Linked DNA regions of Homo sapiens: all the other regions are linked to region 1. The links come from fine-mapping of genetic effects on gene expression. A gene starts in region 1. Each other region holds a variant in brackets. All regions are shown on one strand. Distances are between the middles of the regions.

Region 1 (2,667 bases):
GCGGAAAGTGAAAAGGAAAGGAAAAGAAATGGAAAGCAGATATGTGAGCTTAAGGGAGGTAAAGCAAAAATTAATATTTACTTGACTTGTCCGTTCTCCGTGTAGGTGGTTCTATAAAATCCCACGAGGGAGCCGTTCAGCCAGCCGGCGAACTCCATGGTCAGGAGATACAGGCCATCTCCACTGCTGGGGGTAAGCTCTTCCTCCGCCTCGACCACCACGTACTCCTGCTTTTTGTACTCGAAACACCTCCGGACTTGCACCTGGTCCCCAGAGGGCCTCTTCAGCTCCGGGAGCCGGGTGATCCTGGTCTCCCGGAGGTGCAGCCACAGGTACCGGGTGGGAGCGCTCAGGTTGATGGAGATGCTCACGGTGCCCGTGTAGGTGTCCTCCTCCAACAGGGGCTTCACGTGCAGGTCGTAGTGGACTGGGTTGACGAAGTCCGGCAGTCGAAAGTTTTTCCACTGTCCGCTCTCATCCTCACTGGCCGGGCAGATGTCCTGGTCCTGGGCAGGAGGACCTGAGGGGCTGGCCGTGGAAGAAGGCAGGTGGGAAGGAGCTGGCGCAGTGCCCGGCCCGCCGTCCCCGCTGGAGTCACACGATCTGGTCAAGCCCACGGCAAGTCCCACTATTAATCCTACACCCACCACCACCGCACAGAGAATGGCCACATGTTTCGTTTGAATGCAGTATCTCTTAGAGCCCTCTCTCTCCGCAAAGTTCATTTTTGCTTCCAAAGTCAAGTGTTACACATAAAAAGATGTTAAATTTAACTAACTAACGTCAGCAGACTTCCTTTTTAAATTGGAAGGAATCCCCTGATTTGGCAGCCTGTTTTCGCTTTTCCCACACCCCTCTCTCTGGCTTCTTGCGCCTTTTCCTCTCCCTTTTCACGTTCCCACCAGCCACTCAGGATGAATGCGGAAACAAGGGGGGTGGAATGAGGACTCCGTAAGAGGAGCCGAGTGGGAGGAAGAGGGCTGGCAAGAAGATTGTCACAGCTCCCCTTATAAACGACGCATCTCCACCCCTACCCCTCCTGCACTGCAGCGAGTTAAATATAAAACAGGGCTTCGCTTATCAGCCAACGGGAGGATGAGCCCTCGCCAAAGCTCCGTCAGCAGCTTTCAGGGAGCAAGCGTTTGGGTGAGGTGTGCTTACGATAGAAAATCTCAACCTTTGCCACTCAGCCTGGGGCTTCTTCCTGTTGTGTTCGCAATCTCTCCCTCCTAACTAAAGGGCTTCTTGAATTTCAGCTATTTTATCAGATAGCTTGCTAAAGAAGCTAAGTGTTTTCTTTTATTTTTTTTCCCTCATATTATGTAAACATTCCAATTCTGTCCTTTGAAGAAGTCATATCCTGGAATTGGGTGCTCAGGGTGATTCAAGGACCACCTAGGTACTCAGTAAATATTTGTCGAATTAGATTTGGAAAGCATAGCCAGGTAAACCTAAATCAGTTCAGCTGGTGCTGGGTGAATGAGAGAGGGGGAACCCAAAGAAATTAGCCAAAGCAGTAGTGGAGCTGGAAAGCTTAAGAAGAGAGAGGGAACAAGAGGGGGAGAAGTCTGAAAGGACAGAGGGACAAGGAAGAAGGCCTACTTGTCTCTGCAGTGTGCCTCCAAGTGAGATTGACTTCCTTAGACTTTGATGTGGTAGAGCACGTTTAAAGTAGATTCCAGATGTGAAAATTGACCTGTTGGGAAATCCATCATCCATGCAAATCTATCATTTTGTTTCTGAATGACAAGCTCAGGAAGAAAAATCTCAATGAACTTCATATTTACTGGCAGCTTAGCTATGGACTGACATTTAGAGAGGTTAAGCTATTGCTCAAGGTCACACACCTGGCAAATAGCAGAACTGGGGTTTGAACCCACGTTGTCTGAGTCTAAAGTCCATATATCTGGCCAGGTGTGGTGGCTCACGCCTGTAATCTCAACACTTTGGGAGGCTGAGGCAGGTGGATCACCTGCGGTCGGGAGTTTGAGACCAGCCTGGCCAACGTGGTGAAACCCTGTCTCTCCTAAAGATACAAAAATTAGCCAGGCGTGGTGGAACACATCTGTAATCCCAGCTACTCAGGAGGCTGAGGCAGGAGAATTGCTTGAAGCTGGGAGGCGGAGGTTGCAGTGAGCAGAGACCGTGCCATTGTACTCCAGCCTGTGTGACAGAGCAAGACTCCATCTCAAAATAAATAAATAAATAAATAAAATTAAAAAAATTAAAGTCCATATATCAACGATCGCATTCTACTGCTTGCTTCCATGCTCTGAGGAGGATAAATATTCAAGGGTTAAGTAACTATGAAAAACTTGGTATTTCCCCAGATACAATCCATGGATATTAACAGATCTACTTGCCAAGCAAACAATGCTGGGTTAAAGTGAAAAATCTTCTTTTACTACTCTCCATTCTTGCAGAGCCTCCAGATGGTGACACACATTGTGAGCCTCTCAGAGAGGAAACACGACGGAGTACTTTCCCCATTTAGTTGACAAGACAGCTTTTTCTGGTGAGGTACCTTTTGAGGGCCCTCTGTTCCACAGAGCACACTCTGAGAAACGTTGTTTCAAACGGTTCTAAATTACAAACTAAACAAACAAACAAAAAACAAAACTTTAAAAGCAAACGGGTCCATTTTACTCTGTAACATTTCTGCTGTTT
Region 2 (2,667 bases), 27 kb before region 1:
GCAGCCACCCTAAGGAAAAGAAGCCAGTTTGTCCCAGCCACAACCCCCTGTTACCCCTGCTCATCACCAGGCAGGCCCTTGGCTTGGGCCCACAATACAACCACCTGACCCCGGGCTGATTGCACCAATTGGTAGTGGCTCTGCATTTCTCTGGGGTGGAGTTCCAAAAGACCGGTGAAAAGCCCTCTGCTACAGCAACTGCCAAGGTCCCTTCCCCTGCTGCCTCCAGGCTGCAGAAGGAGCATAAAGCCTGAGCTTGCTCCAAGGCTGTGGTGAGCAGCCCAGGAGTGCCAAGCTGAGATCTGCAGCCAGTACTTGAGTTGGAGAGGAGCAGGCAGTTTCAGAGCACTGAGAGAGAGCACAGCTGCAATTAGGAGGAAACACAGAGGAGCCTTGTGGCTGAGCAAGAGCCTAACTACTGGCCATTATGCTTAAGCACCATCTACTGGATCATAGCCCAAACTTCAGCACCAAAAATACTTTGCTAACATAACGCCCCTGAGAAACAAAGGACATGAATTCAGCGCAAATAATGACCCAGCACAAACACTTCGTCCTCTGAAAACATCCAGGAAAGAAATCAACTGACTGTACTCAAATTACAGCACAGTTGAGGGAACATCAGCCACCACAGTTGAGGGAAAGTCAGCCCACACAGATGAGAAAGAACTAGTGCAGGATCTCTGGCAGCTCAAAAAGCCAGACTGCCTTGGTTCCTCCAAAGAACCACACTAGTTCCACAGCAAGGGTTCTTAACCAGACTGAAACGACTGAAATGATAGCAATAGAATTCAGAATATGGATAGGAAGGAAGATCATTGAGATTCCATTGAGAACCATTGAGAAAGTTGAAACCAATCCAAGGAAACTAAGGATTACAATATAACAGTACAGGAACTGAAAGACAAAATAACCGTTATAAGAAAGAACCAAAATGACCTGACAGAGCTAAAAAAAACACACTACAGGAATTTCATAATGAAATCACAATTATTAACAGCAGAATAGGCCAAGCTGAAGAAAGAATCTCAGAGCTCAAAAACTGGCTCCCCAAACTAACTCAGTCCGACAAAAATAAAGAAAACATCCAGTTCATGTCCTTTGTAGGGACATGGATGAAGCTGGAAACCATCATTCTCAGCAAACTGTCACAAGGACAAAAAACCAAACACTGCATATTCTCACTCATAGGTGGGAATTGAACAATGAGAACACTTGGACACAGGAAGGAGAACATCACACACCAGGGCCTGTCGTGGGGTGGGGGGAGCGGGGAGGGAT[A/G]GCATTAGGAGATATACCTAATGTAAATGACGAGTTAATGGGTGCAGCACACCAACATGGCACATGTATACATATGTAACAAACCTGCACGTTGTGTACATGCACCCTAGAACTTAAAGTATAATAATTAAAAAAAAAGAAAACATCGAATAAGAAGAATCAATATTGTTAAAATGGCCATACTGCCCAAAGCAATTCACAGATTCAGTGGTGTTCCTATCAAACAACCAGTGATAGTTTTGACAGAATTAGAAAAAAACTATTTTAAAATTTATATGGCACCAAAAATATAATTGCCAAGGTAATTTTAAGCAAAAAGAAAAAGCTGGAGGAATCACATTACCTGACTTTAAACTATACTACAAGCCTATAGTAACCAAAACAGCATGGTACTAAGACAAAAATAGACACACAGACCAATGACACAGAATAGAGAGCCCAGAAATAATGCCATACACCTGCAACCATCTGATCTTCAACAAAGTTGACAGAAAGAAGCAATAGGGATAAGACTCTCTATTCAATAAATGATGCTGGGATAACTGACTAGCCGTATGCAGAAGATTGAAACTGGACCCCTTCCTTACACCATATACAAAAGTCAACTCAAGACAGGTTAAAAAGTGTAAAACCTAAAACTATAAAAACCCTGGAAGATAACCTAGGAAATACCATTCCAGACATAGGACCTGGCAAAGATTTCATGACAAAGATGCCAAAAGAAACTGCAACAAAACCATAAGTAGGCAAATGGACTTAAACTAAAGAGCTTCTGCACAGCAAAAGGAACTATCAATAGAGTAAACAGACAACATACAGAATGAGAGAAAATATTTGCAAACTATGCATCCAACTAAGGTAAAATATCCAGAATCTGTAAAGAACTTAAATCAGCAAGCAAAAACAAACAACCCTATTAAACAATGGGCAAAGGATGTGAACAGACACTTTTCAAAAGACACTTTTCACATATGGCCCACAAGCATATGAAAAAATGCTCAACATGACTAATCATTAGAGAACTGCAAATCAAAACCACAATGAGATACTATCTCACCCAGTCAGAATGGCTATTATTAAAAGGTCAAAAAATAACATGCTGGCAAACTTGTAGAGAAAAAGGAACACTTATACACTGTTGGTGGGAATGCAAATTAGTTTATCCATTGTGGAAAGCAGTTTGGCAATTTCTCAAAGAACTAAAGCAGAATTACCAAATGATCCAGCCATCTTATTACAGGATATATATACCCAAGGAAATATAAACTGTTCTGCCGTAAAGACACAGGCCTCCATACGTTCATCACAGCACTATTCACAGTAGCAAAGACGTGGATGGAATCAACTTATTTTCATCAACAGTAGACTGGATAAATAAAATGTGGT
Region 3 (2,667 bases), 61 kb after region 1:
TGGCTTCTTTACATAACATGAGTCTTTGGAAATCAATCCCGGATGTCTCAATTTTCTCTGAGTTGAGAAAGAAGGGCCGGAATTTCCAGGTCTGTGGGGACCCCACGCCCCTGATATAGCAGCACCAGAGAACTTGAGACCCTTCTTTTATGAGTCCTTTATTGCTTACTCAGTTATGCCTCATTAGTTACTAAATCTGATGAACAAGGAAGCCAATATTTAAGGCACTGGAGGATATATCACTGGCTGGTGACAAGGTTGTTACGTAACATCAAGGTTCTTGATGTTCACACTTAGTATTCTTTTCCCTGGCTAGATGTGGTGGCTCATGCCTGTAATCCCAACACTTTGGGAGGTGAAGGCAGGGGGATCACTTGAGTTCAGGAGTTTGAGACCAACCTGGGCAACATAGCAAGACACCATCTCTACAAAAAATTTAAAATTAGCCAGACATGGTAGTGCCCATCTGTAGTTCCAGCTACTTGGGAGGCTGAGATGGGAGGATCACTTGAACCCTGATATTCAGGGCTACAGTGAGTTATGATCACACCACTGCACTCCAGCCTGGGCTACAGAGGCTCTGTCTAAATAAATAAATAAGAAAAATAAAACGGTATTCTTTCAATTGAGTCAGCTTGCAATCCTGGCAAGAGAATTTACTGCATTTTATCATGGGGCTCTCTGGCGTAATGGTGAGCACTCGGGACTCTGAATCCAGAGAATTTACTGCATTCATGCACTATTTTCTAATCCAAAAAATTTAGTAAGCAATATTTTCCTCAATATTAACATAATTTTAGGATGCTGAAAGAGTTCATTCAACTGACCAAAACATTAAGCATTAAACTAAAAAGCAAATTTACAAAGAAAAGATAGATTTTATTTTTAAAAATTATTCCTAAAAATGTTCAATTTGGATCTAAGGAGACTTTGAGAATGTAGTGGTGATAAGGATTCTGATTCTGGCTAACATTCCTTGATGATGGATTTCATCTCATCTTCACAGCATCCCCATGAGGTATGTATGTATTATTAGTCCTGTTTATTGATAGATAAATGGAGGTTTATGAACATTAAGTAACTTGGACAAGGTCATGTAGTTAGAGCCAGAGCTATAACCTAGGTCACCTGGCCTGATTCCAAACCTTGTGTTCTCAATTGAGAGGAAATGTGTGGGCCAAACTATTCCAGATTTCTCAGAAAGTCTGCAGTTCACAGCATAGTTTCTTAATTTTTTTTAATGCCAGCACATCTTTTCAACAGACTCTAAAACTAAATTGCAGTGCTGATGTTTTCCAGGAATTAGACAAATCATGAACAAAGTGAGTGTTTCTCTGCAGAGCATTCTGC[G/A]AAACACAGGTAAGAGCAGACCTCTCCATGGCAAAGCTTCTCTTTGCCCAAGTAGTTGTAGAGACTGTCTTGTTTGTTATTCCTAGTAGAGAGACCACTTTCCTGCTGAGAGTGATTCGTTCAGAAAATATGTTTGAGAAGGGGTCATGCATGTGAGGAGAACAGCTGTGAACACTCATACAGCTCTTTGTTCCCTCATATTTTCTATATTCAGTTCATAATCCACTTGAGCAGTGGTGCCAGCTGGCAGGTCCAGCAGCTCATTTTTCTTCTCATTTTCAGCAGATCATCTAGTTTCTTCCCTATGGGTTCCTACCCCCATTTCATAGCCACTCACCTATTGATAAACAGGCTCTGCCTAAAGCACATCTCATCTTCCAGTCCATCAGCGCAGGATATGCAATTTTCCCAAACTCCAAATTACTATTGTAGTCCTTGATACAACATACATATTTAAATGGGGACTGTGAACACACACAGAGGATGAAAGGCTGAAGTAATGAGTCCTCGTGCCTGGGTTCTAGTCCATCTGATAGTGGTTTACCCTCTTTGGCCTCTGTTCCCTCATTTATTTTGCAGATTAATTCAGGTTACTAATTCTTATGGGTTTTAAAGGATGCTGAACTCCTAACTCCCAGTCCCTGAGAACATGACCTTATTTAGAAAGATGGACCAGGCACGATGGCTCATGCCTATAATCCCAGCACTTTGGAAGGCCTAGGCGGGTGGATCACTTGAGGTCAGGAGTTCAAGACCAGCCTGACCAACATGGTAAAACCCCATCTCTACTAAAAATACAAAAATTAGCTGGGTGTGGTGGCATGCATCTGTAATCCCTGCTACTCGGGAGGCTGAGGCAGGAGAATCGTTTGAACCCTGGAACCTCTGCAGTGAGCCGTAATGGCACCATTGTGCCCCAGCTTGGGTGACAGAGCGAGACTCTGTCTCAAAAAAAAAAAAGAAAAAAGAAAGAAAGAAAAATAGGGGCTTTACAGATGTTCAAGTTAAAATGAGGTAGGTCATTAGGGTGGGCCCTAAACCATTATGACTTATGTCTAGATTTTTAAAAGGTGGAGAAATTTGTATACAGACAGATACTAGTAAGGGAGAAGGCCATCTACAAGCCAAGGAATTTGTATACAGACAGATACTAGTAATGTCTTCCCCTTACTAGTAGGGAGAAGGCCGTCTACAAGCCAACGAATGCATAAGGCTGGGAGAATCTAGGAGAGAGGCATGGAATGAATTCTCCCTCACAGTCCTCAGAAGTTTCCAACCCACCAGATGCCTCCATTTCAGACTTTCAGCCTCCAGAAC

The links. PIP is the estimated chance that this variant, and not a neighbour inherited with it, causes the effect. A credible set is the group of variants that fine-mapping cannot tell apart.
Region 2: its variant is the best candidate, but not a certain one, in a credible set for the expression of ENPEP in lung (GTEx, PIP 0.88).
Region 3: its variant is the best candidate, but not a certain one, in a credible set for the expression of ENPEP in lung (TOPMed, PIP 0.62).

The regions. Positions count from the first base shown.
Region 1 is chr4:110,474,473-110,477,139 of GRCh38, reverse strand. It overlaps ENPEP (glutamyl aminopeptidase), which reads right to left and starts at 985. Exons shown (of 20, transcript NM_001977.4): 1 at 82-985. The coding sequence starts at 725.
Region 2 is chr4:110,501,657-110,504,323 of GRCh38, reverse strand. The region is part of intron 3 of ENPEP (glutamyl aminopeptidase); the gene reads right to left. Among named protein-coding and RNA genes, the nearest start is that of ENPEP, 27 kb to the right of the region's middle. The variant A/G (reference allele first, on the strand shown) is at 1,282.
Region 3 is chr4:110,413,250-110,415,916 of GRCh38, reverse strand. No RefSeq gene overlaps it. Among named protein-coding and RNA genes, the nearest start is that of ENPEP, 62 kb to the left of the region's middle. The variant G/A (reference allele first, on the strand shown) is at 1,351.